Regions from separate parts of the Homo sapiens genome. Here regions 2 and 3 are each linked to region 1. Evidence: fine-mapped expression QTL. A gene starts in region 1. Each other region holds a variant in brackets. All regions are shown on one strand. Distances are between the middles of the regions. Region 1 holds the start of INPP5E (inositol polyphosphate-5-phosphatase E). Region 2 has its middle 7.6 kb from the start of C9orf163. Region 3 holds the start of ENTR1 (endosome associated trafficking regulator 1).

Region 1 (5,215 bases):
GTTTCCCTCCCTCAGCCTCGTCTCTCCTCCCCTCTCCCTTGCCTGTGGAGTATAGACTGGCTGCCAGTGTAGGGGAGCTGAGCGGGGTCCAAGGTCTGGGGCCTCTTGGGATTCAGCCCCATTGTCACCCCAGCCTGCCCTCACAGCCTCACACACTCTTGACTGCAGGCTTCCTGGGCTGGGGCCCAGCACTCCTGCCCTGGTCCTCTACAAACGAGGCCGAGGCTCCCAGGACCACTGCCCCCAAGCTGGCCCCTGGCTGTCACCTGCTTTTCAGCATCCAGACTAGTCGATTTTGGTATTGTCCTGCTCCCTTTACCATGTGGTTAGTGCCTTTACAAAAATTCCTTGGCTTTCCCCTCCATGAGGCTTTGCGAGGGAGCAAGAGTGGATGCCTGCATTGGCCAGCTGTCTGCAACTGAGGTCCCCGCGTCCCATGCAGTAGGCCAGGCCTGGCCACCACTTGTCCCTGGACTCTGGACAGCCAGGCTGGCTCTGCAGAGCAGCTCCAGGTCTCATGGCCCTGATGAAACCACGGCACCTCCTGGCCACCCTCACAGTAAACATTGATGGTTAAGGATACAGTGCTTTCAAGGGAGCCCAGGACTTGGCACTGACTTGTCGGTTTCCAGAGGCTTTTGGAAACAAAAACGAAGCCTTCAGCTTGTCAGCGCCAATGGCCCGTGTGGTTCATTATGTGGACCAGCCCCTGCCACGCTGCAGCCGAGCACTGCTCACCCTGGGGGCAGGCATGCAGAGGTCATGCTGTTGATTTCATTCCAGGCCTGCGCCACCTCCGGGAGCTCAAGGCTAGGGAGGATTGGCCAGAGGAAGCACCTGGTGCTGAACTAGGCTTGCCCTGCTGTGAACTTGCACTTGGAGCCCTGACGCTGCTGTTCTCCCCGAAGAACCCGACCGACCTCCGCGATCTCCGTCCCGCCCCCAGGGAGACACAGCAGTGACTCAGAGCTGGTCGCACACTGTGCCTCCCTCCTCACCGCCCATCGTAATGAATTATTTTGAAAATTAATTCCACCATCCTTTCAGATTCTGGATGGAAAGACTGAATCTTTGACTCAGAATTGTTTGCCGAAAAGAATGATGTGACTTTCTTAGTCATTTAGGATGATTTAAGGATATAGTATTCCTGGTCATTTAAGAATGTTCATTCATTGAAGCCGGAGCTGTCTCTGCCACAGGAGAGCCACATGGTCGGTAGTAACCAGGGCCTCTCCAAGCCCAGCTGTGAGTCACTGCCCAGTGAGTCCCGCGCTTCCTTTAAGGTGCTGGGAGCAAAGAGAGGGTGACTGAGGCAGACCCCAACCCCTGCTCTGCACCATCTGGGCCCTCGCCGTGTTTGAACCTGGCTGAATGAGTGGAGGGCGCTGTGTTCTCAATCAGCGCCTCCGAGGAGCCGTGGGGTTCCTTCGGCATTAGTTCACGGTTTTTGAGAGAGGCCTTAGTTACTGCAGTGAATTTCTTTCCTGTTGCAAAGACGCTTCCAGCCTCACTTTACTTTCTGTGGCCTGATGAGGACCATGGGTGATTTTGTGTACCCAAAGCGCTGGGGACTGCCCACCGTGTGGCCCAGTCACTGGGAAGGAGCCCCAGAGAGCCGGCTGTCTGACATGATGGCTCAGGGTGGTCATCCAGGTTGAAAACTGACCGTGTGATGTTTGATTTGGGCTTCATTTCGTGTGTAGGAGCACGGTTAGACTCACTGTTAAGGAAGCTGGATGCACTTCTCTAAAAGGCTGCACTTTCCGTGAGCACTTTTCGTGGTACAATCCACATGACCCACTTTCTCCCCTGGGGGACGTTGGTTCAGAGGTTGGTAGCACTTGGGGAGAGTATCTTAACACAGTTTCTTGACAGCAGCTCTGGAACTTAGTATTTCTGCCCCGAGTTTTGCCACACTGAGACTTTGAGTAGCTCCTGGTGGACTCAACCCTGTTCAACTCAGAGACGGGCCTCCTCTCACTGATGCAAAGCTTTAAGGCTTCTCTGACTGTTCTGAAACTCTTCGTATTCTTGTCAAGTCTAAAGAGACTGAAGAAAAGATTTAAATACTAATAAAAATCAGTAGATAATTTCTGTAGGTTCTGCTGGAGGAATACAAACTGTTTGGTGTTTTAAATTTAAGTGTAGAAATTGTAGAATGTGGAATTAGCACAGATCCTTCCTGGCTTTCTGTTTCACTTGATCATTTAGCCCAGACCACCCAGGATGTTTTCCAAAATGTTCCACAGGCGTGTCCCGCTGGATCCATTTGTCCTTGTCACTTGGAGAAAGGCCAGTCCCTGTGACGGGGCAGCCCTCTCTGTCCCTCGGTCAGCTCGTGTGAATCCTGGGACCTCTTCCGGTCGGCTCTGCCCGCTGTTCTGGGGTCGACTGCCACGACTTTTGATTCAAGAAGCTTCCTCCAGGCGGGAGCGGCTATTTTTCCTAAATGAGAATTGTTACATTGCAAATTGTTGAATAAAATATTTTGCGCTCCTTCAAGCACCTTCACCTGTGGTTCCCTTTGGTTTGCTGGAAGCGAGTGAGTGCAGGTGTCCGCAGGCCTCGGCGCTGTCCTGGACCGCACCCAGGTCCTCTCCGGGGACCTGCACCTGCCTCGCTGGGACCTGCCGGACTGCGGGGCTGCCGGGTTGGGAGGGGCGTGGGAGACCCGTCCGGGTCCGGTGCGGCGCAGTCCTCCGGCCGCCAGGGGCCGCTGTGGGCGGGGCCGGGGCGCGGGGCGGGGACCGGGCGCGGCCCCGCGGCGGCGGTTGCTGGGTCCCGGCCGGGCTGACTCCGCTTCTGGGCGGCCGGGCCTCCGCGAGTACCGGGTCGACTTCGGAGTCTGCGAGCCCAGCCAGGGGTGCCCGCTTCCCACCCCTCTCCCCGAGCGGCGTCCCCGTCGGGGTCGAACCTCCCCCGCGACAGGCGCCCAGCCGCCTGTTCCCCCAGGCCTTGCCTGCGGACCGCCCTGGGAACGGCGTCTGGGAGCCCCGAGGGGCTGGCGGGACTCGGGGCCCGGGCCATGCGGCAGCCGCCCCCGCCCCTCCGCGACCATCCCCGGCCCAAGCGGGAGCCGCAGCGGCGTTTCTGCTCCTCGCTGCGCCGGCGACCCCGGACCCGGCACCCGTGACCCCTCGCGCTGCCTGCGGCCTCGCGCCGAGGCCTGCCCCGGGAGAGACCGTCCATGCCGTCCAAGGCGGAGAATCTGCGGCCCTCCGAGCCGGCCCCGCAGCCGCCGGAAGGGAGGACGCTCCAAGGACAGCTTCCCGGCGCTCCGCCGGCCCAGCGCGCGGGGTCCCCACCCGATGCTCCGGGCTCCGAGAGCCCCGCGCTTGCCTGCAGCACTCCGGCCACGCCCAGCGGCGAGGACCCGCCAGCCCGAGCAGCACCCATCGCCCCGCGGCCCCCCGCCAGGCCTCGACTGGAGCGAGCCCTGTCCCTGGACGACAAGGGCTGGAGGAGGAGGCGTTTTCGAGGCAGCCAGGAGGACCTGGAAGCCCGGAATGGGACCAGTCCCTCCAGGGGCTCAGTGCAGAGCGAGGGCCCCGGGGCCCCCGCCCACAGCTGCTCCCCGCCCTGCCTGAGCACCTCCTTGCAGGAAATCCCCAAGTCCCGCGGGGTCCTGAGCAGTGAGAGAGGGAGCCCGTCCTCGGGGGGTAACCCTCTCTCTGGGGTGGCCAGCAGCTCCCCGAACCTCCCGCACAGAGACGCCGCCGTGGCGGGGAGCTCGCCCAGGCTGCCCAGCCTGCTGCCCCCGCGCCCACCGCCTGCCCTGAGCCTGGACATCGCCTCCGACTCCCTGAGGACAGCAAACAAGGTCGACTCGGATCTTGCAGACTACAAGCTCCGCGCGCAGCCGCTCCTGGTGCGGGCCCACAGCAGCCTGGGCCCCGGCCGGCCGCGGAGCCCCCTGGCCTGCGACGACTGTTCCCTTCGCTCGGCCAAATCCTCCTTCAGCCTCCTGGCGCCCATCCGCAGCAAGGACGTCCGCAGCAGGTAGGGAGGGCCTGGCGGGTGCAGCGCCCGCGCCGCCTTCGTTGTAGTGTTCAGGCTGCTGGAACCTCGTGAGACCGTTCCCATCAGCAGCGTTTAAGATGCCTAACCGGAAAGAACGAAGCGGGTCTCCCGCAGCCACCCCATCTCCCAGCCCCACCCCACAGCAGCGCCCTTCCCAGAACTTTTCCTGTGCGTTTCAGAACCATTCGTGGGCGTGACGTTGTGTTAAGGTAGACAGGATGGCATCCTGCATACAATTACGTATCTGGCGCTTTTTCTTGTTTAGTCTTGGGAAATGTCGTCAATGTATACGATCCGCCCCTTTGGTTGTTTTTGTTTGTTACTCTCTCTGTCGCCCAGGCTGGAGTGCAGCGGCGCGATCCCGGCTCACTGCAACCTCTGCCTCCTGGGTTCAAGGGATCCTCCTGCCGCAGCCTCCTGAGAATCTGGGATTACAGGCGCCCGCCACCACACCCAGCTAAATTTTGTATTTTTAGTAGGGGCGGGGTTTCGCCGTGTTGGCGAGGCTGGTCTCGAACTCCTGGCCTCGGCCTCCCAAAGTGCTGGGATTCCCGGCGTGGGCCACTGCGCCCGGCCTGCCCCCTTTGTTTTTTTCTGCGGCAAGAGGCCCCAGATGTGTTGAGGCTACTTTCGTTTAGCCACTTGCTCATGAGGAACATTTTGGTGGGCTCCAGCTGTTGCTGGAAGGAACTGCAGCTGAACCCATGACCTCTCCCAAGCCTGGTCTTGTCTTGGGGTCTCAGTCTGGGGGCCTGTCCTGAGATGCTCCCACTATGACTTGGCAGAGTCACCTGCACCCTTCTTTTCCTCCCCCCACCCCACTGCCATGGTGCCCAAGTCTTGTCTGTCAGCCGCGGCGGGAGGCAGGACAGGTGTGAGAAGGGAGAGGTGTGAGGTGGTTTCTGTGTTGGTGTCCTGGGGCCGTTGTAACTCATGACCACAGACTGGGAGGCTTGCAACAGCAGAGCTGGACTCTCTCCCAGTTCTAGAGGCCAGAAGTCTAAAATCAAGGTGTGGCCACGCAGCCTCTCTCCAGAGGCTCAGGGGAGGGTCCTCCCGCTGCCTCCCGCTCCTGGGGCCCCACTTGTTCCTTGGCTTGTGGCCGCATGCTCCAGTCTCTGCCTCTGTCTTTATGTGGCCTCTTCCCTGTCTCTCTGTGTTCCCCTCTCTTTTTATAAGGACACCAGTCATTGAA
Region 2 (5,215 bases), 51 kb before region 1:
ACTGCCTGCCCTGGGCCCAGTCTCTCCAAGGAGGGATGTGAGCCCGAGGCCTCTACTATGGCTGGGGGCTGCGTCTGCCAGCCAGCGCTGGGCACCAGGACCAGGAGGGGCCACCGTGGAACTGCAGTGAGTGGCCTGACTCTTGTCTTCAAAGGGGGTGACCCAGCCGGAGTCCTGCCCATAAAACTCCCAGCACCCTGAAATTCCACTCCTGGGGGTCTGTCCGAAAGAAGTGAAAACAGGGACTCAAACAAACGCACGTGGCCACTTGCTGTCCCGGCATCACTCAGTACAGCCACAGACAGCCTGAGCGTCCACTGCCAACGACGGGTCAGCAAAACCGTCTGCTGTGACGGTGAACCTTAGTGTCAGCTTGGCCGGGCCATTTCGCCAAACGGAGTGTGTCTCTGAGGTGTTCTGGATGAGGTTCGCATTTGCATCCACAGCCCGGGTAAGGCAGTCCGCCCTCCCCAGTGTGGGTGGGCCCCGTGCGGTCCGCTGAGGCCTGGGGAGAACAATAGGCCGAGTGCCAGGGGTCCTCCCACCCAACCGCTTGCACTGGACATTGGTCTTTTCCTGCCTTCAGACTTGGACTGAAAACGTGGGCTCTTCCTGGGCCTGGAGCCCACCGGCCTTCGGACTCGCAACGCCATCAGGCCTCCTGCCTGCAACTGCAGACCCTGGGAACTGCAGGCCTCGAGGTCGTGTGGCCAATTCCCTGCAATAACCTCTCCAGTGGCACGTCTTATGGGCTCCGCTTGCCGGAAGAACCCTGACGAATGCGCACGAGGGAATATGATTCCACCGTAGAAAAGGAGGCGCTGACACCCACCATGCGGACAAGCCTTGGAAGCACGGTGCTCAGTGAAGGGTGCCGGCCGCAAAGGGCCGCAGGTGCAGTGACTCCATTTCTATGGGGTGCCTGTGGTCACCGAACCCATGGAGACAGAAAGTAGATTGATGGTTCCCAGAGCCGGGGGGAGGAGGAAAGGGGAGTGGCTGCTAAACGGCCCGGGGTTTTTTTTTGTTTTGTTTTGTTTTTATACTTTAAGTTTTAGTTTATTGTGGCACTGTTCACAATAGCAAAGACTTGGAACCAACCCAAATGTCCAACAATGATAGACTAGATTAAGAAAATGTGGCACATATATACCATGGAATACTATGCAGCCATAAAAAATGATGAGTTCATGTCCTTTGTAGGGACGTGGATGAAGACGGCCCGGGGTTTTACTTTGGAGTGACGCAAATGTTCTGGGCCCAGGGAGAGGTGGTGCGTGCACAGCCCTTCGAGTGCACTAAATGCCAATAACGCGGACACTTTTTTTTTTTTTTTTTGAGACGGAGTCTCGCTCTGTCACCCAGGCTGGAATGTGGTGGCGTGATCTTGGCTCACTGCAACCTCCGCCTCTGTGTTCAAGTGATTCTCCTGCCTCAGCCTCCAAAGTAACTGGGATTACAGGCCCCTACCACCACACCCGGCTAATTTTTTTGTATTTTTAGTAGAGATTGGGTTTCACCATGTTGGCCAGGCTGGTTTCAAACTCCTGATCTCAAGTGATCCACCCGCCTCGGCCTCTTAAAGTGCTGAGGTTACAGGCGTGAGCCACTGCACCTGGCCTAACTCGTACACTTTAAAGTGGTTAATTTTAGGTTCTGTGAGTCTCACCTCAATATGTTATTTTTTTTTTTTAATTAAAAAAAGTTTTTGAGACAGGGTCTTGCTCTGTCACCCAGGCTGGAGTGCAGTGGTGCCATGATAGCTTATTGCAGCCTCAACCTCCTGGGCCCAGGTGATCCTCCCACCTTGGTCTCTCTAGCAGCTGGGATTACAGGTGCACACCACCTCACCCACCCAATTTTTTTGTTATTTTTTGCAGAGATGGGGTCTCACTTTGTTGCCCAGGTTGGTCTCGAACTCCTGAGCTCATGCAGTCCTCTCCTCACCTTGGCCTCCCAGAGTGCTGGGATTACAGGTGTGGGCCACTGCGCCTGGCCACATATGCAACTTTAAATATTTCAGTAGCCACATTAAAAAGGTAAAAAGAAACAGGCAAAGTGTATATTAATACTACAGCTTAGTTAATCCAATATATCAAAAATATTATTTTAACACAACATAAAAAGTGAATGAGTTTTTTTTTGTTGTTTTTTGTTTTTTGAGACAGAGTCTCCCTCTGTCACCCAGGCTGGAGTGCAGTGGTGCGATCTCAGCTCACTGCAACTTCCGCCTCCCGGGTTCAAGCGATTCTCCTGCCTCAGCCTCCCGAGTAGCTGGGATTACAGGCACCTGCCACCACGCCCAGCTAATTTTTGTATTTTTAGTAGAGAGGGGGTTTCACCATGTTGGCCAGGCTGGTCTTGATCTCTTGACCTCGTGATCGGCCCACCTCGGCCTCCCAAAGTGCTGGGATTATAGGCGTAAGCCACCACGCCCGGCCGTGAATGAGATGTTTTATATTCTTTTTGTTTGTTTGTTTTTGGTACTGTGTCTTTGAAACCCAGGATGTACAGTACACTCACAGCACCCTAGATTGGGCCTGGCCACACTTTAAAAGGTGTTCAGTATCTCCAGGAGGCTCACGTCCAGATTCGGACTCTTCAGCAGGATGCCAAGGGGGCTCCAGACAGTTCCACCCAGCGCAGGAAAACACCAAGTGTATCTTCAGCCTGGTGACTCACTCCACGCCGCTGCCGGCGTGAACCCCGAGTGTGGCGCTGCGTCCCTCTGGATAGAGCAAAGGAGGGTCCCAAGAGCCCGGAGGCACCAACTCATCAGGGCCCACAAATCAGGCCCCCGGCAGGCAGGGCTGCCTCCATCCAAGAGGGAAGCACGGTGCCGTAGCCCCCGGGCTGCTCCAGGGATCGACAGGCCTGTGCTGCCTTCATCCCAAAAGTCTCACTTGCAAAGGGTGTCCGTGGGGCTCAACTGCGTGCTCAGCGGTGGACTGATTTCGTTCTGTGTGGCTCCTTATCTCATCGTGGACCCAAATCCACGAACCACACATGAGGAGCTCTGCTGGAGGGGGCAGC[A/G]CTGGGCAGAGGCAGACAAGGGGGAGCGTCACGCGGCTGTTTCCCGTGGTGAGCATCCACCAGCAGCGGTTCCTGGTGGGACACCGACGTATTCGTCTGCAAAAGTAAAAGTGTTTCAAAACAAAACCGGGTCCAGCTTGGTCCCGGTGCGTTGAAAGTGCTGGCGTTGGCCAGGCGTGGTGGCTCACGCCTGTAATCCCAGCACTTTGGGAGGCTGAGGCGGGTGGATCACAAGGTCAGGAGATTGAGACCATCCTGGCTAACACGGTGAAACCCCGTCTCTACTAAAAAATACAAAAAATTAGCCGGGCGTGGTGGCAGGCGCCTGTAGTCCTAGCTACTTGGGAGGCTGAGGCAGGAGAATGGCGTGAACCTGGGAGGCGGAGCTTGCAGTGAGCAGAGATCATGCCTCTGCACTCCAGCCTGGGCGACAGAGCAAGACACTCTCACAAAAAAAAAAAAAAAAAAAAAAAAAAAAAAAAAAAGTGCTGGCGTTAGTGGAGGTCTCTCAGAGGGGGCGTTGCAGGGCCTCCCACGTTACTCAGGCTTTGCAGACGAAGACGCAGGGTCAGTGAGTGAGCGAGCTTTGGGAAAGGCTGTTCTTCAATCTGCATCTTGAAGGTGGCTGGGTGGCGCCTCAGTCGCCTGCCCCGACGTGACTCCCGATCTGGCTGCTTTGTGTCTTTGCTTTCCACCTGGCGGCTGCTGTCCTGGCTGTTGCTGTACCTCAGTGTCCTCGTGGGTCAAGTGGGGACCTGGGTGCTGGCCCTGGGCCTGCGATGGTGAGCTGCTGGTGCACGCTGGGCATGGGGTGAGGGCTCAGAAAGGGAACAGCTCTTGTTATCGTTAGGAGGTTTTCAATCGCATTCTTTGTTCTCCACCTGCATGCCGTGTTGGCACAGTTAAGCCTGGCGGCCCCTTCAGCAGGTGTCCTAACCGTCTACATTTTAAGATGGACAAGTCTAGGCTCATGGAGATTGCAGGACTGAGCTGCGAAGCTTTATTCATGCCCAACACGACAGGTGCCAGGTGCCCAGGGCCTCAGAGGTGGGTTTCCGTTGTTCTTCACACAACCTTGAACTTGTGGCCCATCCCTGGACCTTACAGCACAGGACACACTCTCAGTGTTTGTTAGGAATCTATAATTTTCTGCGGAGTCACGCGTGATATTTGCTGTGGCTTTTGGTATATCTTCCACTCTATCGCACGGGATTTTCTGGTGAAAATGTGCCCTGGGTCCACACAAACGTGCACATTCTACCACAGCCTTTGTCGTTCTGTTTGGCATTTTTCCATTTAATAAAATGAACCTTAGAAAAGTTATAACTACGGCCAGGCGTGGTGGCTCACACCTGTCATCCCAGCACTTCGGGAGGCCGAGGCGAGAGGATCACCTGTGGTCAGGAGTTCCACACCAGCCTGGTCAACTGGTGAAACCCCCCTCTCCACTAAAAATACAAAAATTAGCTGGGCACCATGGTGGGCACCTAGAATCTCAGCTACTTGGGGGGGCTGAGGCAGGAGAATTGCTTGAATTCGGAAGGAGGAGGTTGCAGTGAGCTGAGATTGCACCACTGCACTCCAGCCTGGGGGATACAGTGAGACTCGGTCTCAAAAAAAAAAAAGAAAAGTGTATAACTTTACTTTTTTTTCTTTTTGTGGAGATGGAATCTTGCTATGTTGCCCAGGCTGGTCTCAAACCCCTAGGTTCAAGTGATCCTCCCACTTTGGCCTCCCAAAATGCTGAGACGACAGATGGGAGCAACCTCACCTGGCAAGCGTGCACCTGTTACTTTGGCCGACTCAGAGGCGGCTCTCTGCCTCCCCCTGGTGGCACTGCTCTGCCAGCGCCCCACAGGTCCTCCCGAGTGACCACAGGGCAGAAATGGCCCTCACCCCACGCCCAGGGCCATCCCCCGCGACACTGCTATTATCCTGTTTTACACATGAGGAAGCTGGGGCTCAAAGAGGTTAGGCGACTTAGCCAAGTTCGCCCATTCACTGAGCCAGGGCTATGTGATTCCCGGTCCGTGTCAAACCACGAGGAGTCACCTGCCCTCAGAGGAGCAGGAAGGCCTGTAGAGTTGATGCCATCCAGCCTGGTGACTTTTCAGACAGGGAGACGGCTGCTCAGAGGGGAGAAGGGGGTTGTTGGGCCACTTTGCCAGGAGTCAATACCATG
Region 3 (5,175 bases), 31 kb after region 1:
GAGGAGCGGTGGGTACGGAAAGGGTTCTTAAACGTCAGAGATCAACGGACAGACCGCAGCAACCGAGAGCCTGGACCCTGGTGTCAGAACCCTGCGGGTCTAACAGAGCTGGGCCCCCACCGGCTCAGCCTCCTGAAGGAGCACGCGGTAGGTGAAGCGCGGGGGCAAATATGAGGCATGGCCTCGGAGAAGGCCCGTCGACCCGGGAAGTGAGGGGGGGAGAGGACCCAGCAGCCGGGGAGAGGAGAGACAGATGGGACTGCGTCCCCGGGCTCGAGGCGCAAAGCAAGGCAGGGCCCCCGTCGCCTCGGGGACACCAGTGTCCCGAAGTGCGAGCCCGTCCCACGGGCGCCATGTCACCTGTAGAAACCGAAGACGGAGCGTCCAGAAAGACTCGAGCCGCCCCCGCCCCAGGCCGAAGCCTGGTTCGCCTTTGGCTCACCTCAGCCGCGAACAGCCCCAAGAACCCGAGCCCCGCAGCAACCGCGTCGCCGCCAGCACCACAGCCGCCATCTTGCGTCTCCGCCCCGCTTCAGTCGTCACTTCCGCTTCCGCCCACGGCTTCCCCTCCCCCTCGCCGACGGCCCAAGGCGTTCAGGCACGCGCTTTCGGTGCTCGGAGCGGAAGCAGCGGCGAGAGGCTCGGAGGCGCGGGGGCGGCCGAGCGGCGGGCGACGGGGGCGGGCGACGGGGGCGGGCGACGCGGGCCGCGGCACGGGCGGAGCCGGGGCCATGGAGCCGCCGCTGCCGGGCTAGGCAGGTCGTGCCCCGCCGGGCCGGCGGCGATGTCGGGCTACCAGCGCCGCCCGGGCGCCACCCCGCTGTCCCGAGCCCGGAGCCTCGCCATTCCCGACGGTGAGCGGGGCAGGGGCCGAGTCCAGCGGTCCAGGTGGGCGGCGGCCGCCCCGGCACGCAGTAAAGTCGCTGTTGTCGTTGCTTCCAGCTCCAGCGTTCTATGAGCGCCGGTCTTGTCTCCCCCAGCTAAATTGTGAGCGCCCCCATGGCAGGGACCTGGACTCCCCCTTCTTCGGCATTCGGCCGGCCTTTATGTGCTATGTGCCCAGCCCGGTGCTGGCTTCCGTGGGAGACACAGGTGAGAGACGAGGGCGCCGGCCCCGGGGACGCTTCCAGTTCCCGCGCCACGTGTGGCACCTCCGCTGCAGCACGAGCTCGTCCATTGACCCATCAATGTGCAGAGCGCTCACTGCGTGCCAGGCACTCGGAATTCAAAGGCGGAGTCCCCTGCTAGGAGCTCACAGTCTGGTTGCGGGGAGACCTCCCCCAAGACAGACAGTTCCAGTACAGGATGGTTAGTGCCCGGGGAGCACAGGAGCCCGCCCGCTTTCCTCGTGGGGCTGGAGTCGGGGTGCCTTCACCTAGTGGGCAGTGATTGGAAACCGAGCTGGAGCATTCCATCTGCCTCCACAGCCGGGCAGTGGCCAGATCTGGTTCGTCCTCGTTCTACCCAAGCAGAAGTGCTGCTGGGTGCCCGGGGTGTGCAGGAGTGTTTGTGTGGTTATGCCAGGATCTGAGGACATTCGGGGGTTGTCACAAGACAAGAGGACGCGCTTGCCCCGGCTGGGCTTCAAAATCTGCTGAGGAGCCGCTTTCAGACCACGGACACCAGGGCCAGTCTGCAAGTCAGGCCATCTCCAGGGTCACAAGTCTGGGAGCTTGTGTTTTTTTTAAAGTTTTCTCGGCTGACCGGGCGCAGTGGCTTACGCCTGTAATCCCAGCACTTTGGGAGGCCGAGGCAGGCGGATCATGAGGTCAGGAGATTGAGACCATCCTGGCTAACAGGGTGAAAACCCGTCTCTACAAAAAATACAAAAAAATTAGCCGGGCGTGGTGGCAGGTGCCTGTAGTCCCAGCTACTCGGGAGGATGAGGCAGGAGAATGGCGTGAACCCAGGAGGCGGAGCTTGCAGGGAGCCGAGATCGCACCACTGCACTCCAGCTTGGGCGACAGAGCAAGACTCCGTCTCAAAAAAAAAAAAAAAGTTCTCTAGACTGTGAGAACCACTGCAGTGGAGACTCCATGTGCAAAAGAAAAAAACCAAATGTGAGGTCATAAAGACTTCCTGCCAGCATGGTGGGTGACATTGTTTCTTTGCAGATTTTGGCTATGGAAAGGGGAAATGTTCTAAGCAGAGCCCGTCAGGAGCCCACGGGACACATTTTGGAGGTAGAGTAGTTCAGCAACCTTTTCTTCTTGTCTCCATCCAACACAGTGCCAGGCACGTGTCTGGTGGGACTGTCAATGTGACTGGCTATGTGGTGTAGCTGGAGCCCAAAAGAGCAGGTGGGGGTGGGATTTCAAGGGTTCAGTCTTGATCCTAGAGTAGCAGCGAGGTGACATCAGGGAGCGGGGAAGCCCCACCTGGGGGGCTGGGGCCACAGGAGCCAGCTTTACATGGGGCTCACAGCTGGGAGGGTCGAGTGTGGCTGCTTAAGTCCCCGGAGGGTGGGAAGGCGGTGGCAAGAGGGAGAAGGGAAAAGTGGGCGTTATTTAGGCTACCTAGGTAGGAAAGTCGGGAAGAGGGTCAGGGGGCACTGGGTCCCCAGCGTTGCAGCACCTGAGGAGCT[G/T]GTTGTTGTTGTTGTTTTTTGAGACAGAGTCTCGCTCTGTCGCCCAGGCTGGAGTACAGTGGCACGATCTCGGCTCACTGCAAGCTCCACCTCCCAGGTTCACGCCATTCTCCTGCCTCAGCCTCCCGAGTAGCTGGGACTACAGGCGCTCACCACCACGCCTGGCTAATTTTTTGTATTTTTAGTAGAGATGAGGTTTCACCGTGTTAGCCAGGATGGTCTCAGTCTCCTGACCTCGTGATCCGCCCGCCTTGACCTCCCACAGTGCTGGGGTACAGGCGTGAGCCACCACACCTGGCCACCTGAGGAGCTTTGAGAGCTCCTAGCACAGGTTGACCTCACACCAGGGAGCTGGGTGTGTGCAGTGGAGTGGCTTGGGTCGTTTTAAAGCTCCCCAGGGGAGCTTTAGTGAGCAGCACAGTGTGGGAGCAGGGGCCGAGGGGTGGAAGGAGAAGATTGCAAATGCAGACGCACGTCTGTGTCACTGCCCACCTTCAGCCACCTTCACACTTCCTAGTGCTGCCTGAGTCATGGTAGAATGACAAGCGTGGCTGCCCGATCTCACATGTGGCCATGCTCTGGAAAGACAGGTGAACAGGAAGGTTCCCTTTCAACGCTCTTCAGTAGACTTTATGCATTTGTGATGTCTGTTATTTCAGATGACAGATTTGAAGATCTGGAAGAGGCAAATCCATTCTCTTTTAGAGAGTTTCTGAAGACCAAGAACCTCGGCCTCTCGAAAGAGGATCCGGCCAGCAGAATTTATGCAAAGGTAAATCCACGGCACTGTGGGCGATGGCTCTGTGGGACGTTTCTGTTCCGGCCTCTGCAGCCTCCTTTGGAGGAATCGTGCATGAGTGTGGCAGAGCAGGCAGGCGTCAGTGCTGGGGAGCAGCTCTGGGCTCAGAAGCTGCTGGGCTCCTTCCGGTAGAGAGATTGGGCCTTTCTTCTTGTTGCGAGGCAGAACACAGAAAGGAAGATGCGCTCCGAGTCAGAAGCATGGCCTCCATTGTTTTTTTTTTTTTTTTTTTTTTAGGAAGCCTCGAGGCATTCCCTGGGACTTGACCACAACTCCCCACCCTCCCAAACCGGCGGGTATGGCCTGGAGTATCAGCAGCCATTTTTCGAGGATCCGACAGGGGCTGGTGACCTCCTGGATGAGGAGGAGGATGAGGACACCGGATGGAGTGGGGCCTACCTGCCGTCCGCCATCGAGCAGACTCACCCCGAGAGGGTCCCTGCCGGCACGTCGCCCTGCAGCACATACCTTTCCTTTTTCTCCACCCCGTCGGAGCTGGCAGGGCCTGAGTCTCTGCCCTCGTGGGCGTTGAGTGACACTGATTCTCGCGTGTCTCCGGCCTCTCCGGCAGGGAGTCCTAGCGCAGACTTTGCGGTTCATGGAGAGTCTCTGGGAGACAGGCACCTGCGGACGCTGCAGATAAGTTACGACGCAGTAAGTGAGCCTCACGGCGCCCTCTGGCACAGCGCCTGTCCGAGCGGCTTCTCCCGGGGAGAACCTGGAGCCATCCTACCTCTTGGGTGGCCTGGTTTGATTTCCAGGACAAGGCGATTTGCGTGACAGCCTGCTATCCACTTTCCCTTTGACTTTGCTTCTGGTTACACGTGGGAATAGAACCGGCTAAAGAGGACTGGTGAGCTAGAAGCTGTGAATTGGATGCAGTTGGGCACTTACAGGGCTGTACCCTCAGTAAAGGCAGGCTGCAGTCGCCAGCTTGCTAAGTATTCCAAGAGGAGGAAAATTTTTAAAAAATTATAATCACCTAAAAGGTTATAAGCTCTGAATAAAAAAAAAAATTTTTTAGCTGGGCGCCGTGGCTCACGCCTGTAATCTCAGCACTTTGGGAGGCCGAGGTGGGTGGATCACCTGAGGTCAGCAGTTTGAGACCAGCCTGGCCAACATGGTGAAACCCTGTCTCTACTGAAAATACAAAAATTAGCTGGGCGTGGCGGCAGGCGCCTGTAGTCCCAGCTACTTGGGAGGCTGAGGCAGGAGAATCGCTTGAACCCGGGAGGCGGAGGTTGCGGTGAGCCGAGGTCACGCCACTGTACTCCAGCCTAGGCGACGGGCGAAACTCTGTTTCAAAAAAAAGAAAAATTATTTTCTTCCTGAGACAGTGTCTCACTCTGTTGCTCATGCTGGAGTGGAGTGGCACGATCTCGGCTCACTGCAACCTCCGCCTCCCGAGTTCAAGTGATTCTCCTGCTTCAGCCACCCGAGTAGTTAGGACTACAGGTGCCCGCCACCACTGCTGGCTAATTTTTGTATTTTTAGTAGAGACGGGGGTTTCACCGTGTTGGCCAGGCTGGTCTCAAACTCCTGACCTTGTGATCCGCCCACCTCGGCCTCCCAAAGTGCTGGGATTACAGGCGCGAGCCACTGCCCCCGGCCTCTGAGTAAAATTAACTGGCATCTGTGACCACAGGTCTTTGAAAAGTGCCTGCCTCCGTCTGTGGTCTCCCTCTGTAGTGGCTGCAGGTGGATGCTGCACTGACCCAGCATCTCTGCTTATCAGGAGGCTCTGGAGCCACACCGCAGAAGCACACGCCCTTTTGAGCCAGACATGCTGACT

Evidence for each region.
Region 2: its variant is fine-mapped to the expression of INPP5E in skeletal muscle (GTEx, PIP 0.96).
Region 3: its variant is fine-mapped to the expression of INPP5E in blood mononuclear cells (TOPMed, PIP above 0.99). The same link has a PIP of 0.9 or more in T cells.

What each region holds. Positions count from the first base shown.
Region 1 is chr9:136,437,392-136,442,606 of GRCh38, reverse strand. It overlaps INPP5E (inositol polyphosphate-5-phosphatase E), which reads left to right and starts at 2,762. Exons shown (of 10, transcript NM_019892.6): 1 at 2,762-3,999. The coding sequence starts at 3,188. It overlaps SEC16A (SEC16 homolog A, endoplasmic reticulum export factor), which reads left to right. Exons shown (of 32, transcript NM_014866.2): 32 at 784-2,502. The coding sequence ends at 852. RefSeq lists silencers at 2,604-2,803, 2,854-3,033, 3,094-3,583 and enhancers at 2,656-3,289, 3,290-3,924, 3,874-3,983, 3,925-4,558.
Region 2 is chr9:136,488,458-136,493,672 of GRCh38, reverse strand. No RefSeq gene overlaps it. Among named protein-coding and RNA genes, the nearest start is that of C9orf163, 7.6 kb to the right of the region's middle. RefSeq lists a silencer at 4,763-4,812. The variant A/G (reference allele first, on the strand shown) is at 3,034.
Region 3 is chr9:136,406,007-136,411,181 of GRCh38, reverse strand. ENTR1 (endosome associated trafficking regulator 1) reads left to right here and starts at 568. Exons shown (of 10, transcript NM_001039707.2): 1 at 568-854; 2 at 943-1,092; 3 at 2,115-2,183; 4 at 3,244-3,356; 5 at 3,621-4,037. The coding sequence starts at 785. It overlaps PMPCA (peptidase, mitochondrial processing subunit alpha), which reads right to left and starts at 524. Exons shown (of 13, transcript NM_015160.3): 1 at 443-524. The coding sequence starts at 513. RefSeq lists enhancers at 286-335, 366-455, 1,306-1,465, 3,671-4,259 and silencers at 666-755, 896-945. The variant G/T (reference allele first, on the strand shown) is at 2,585.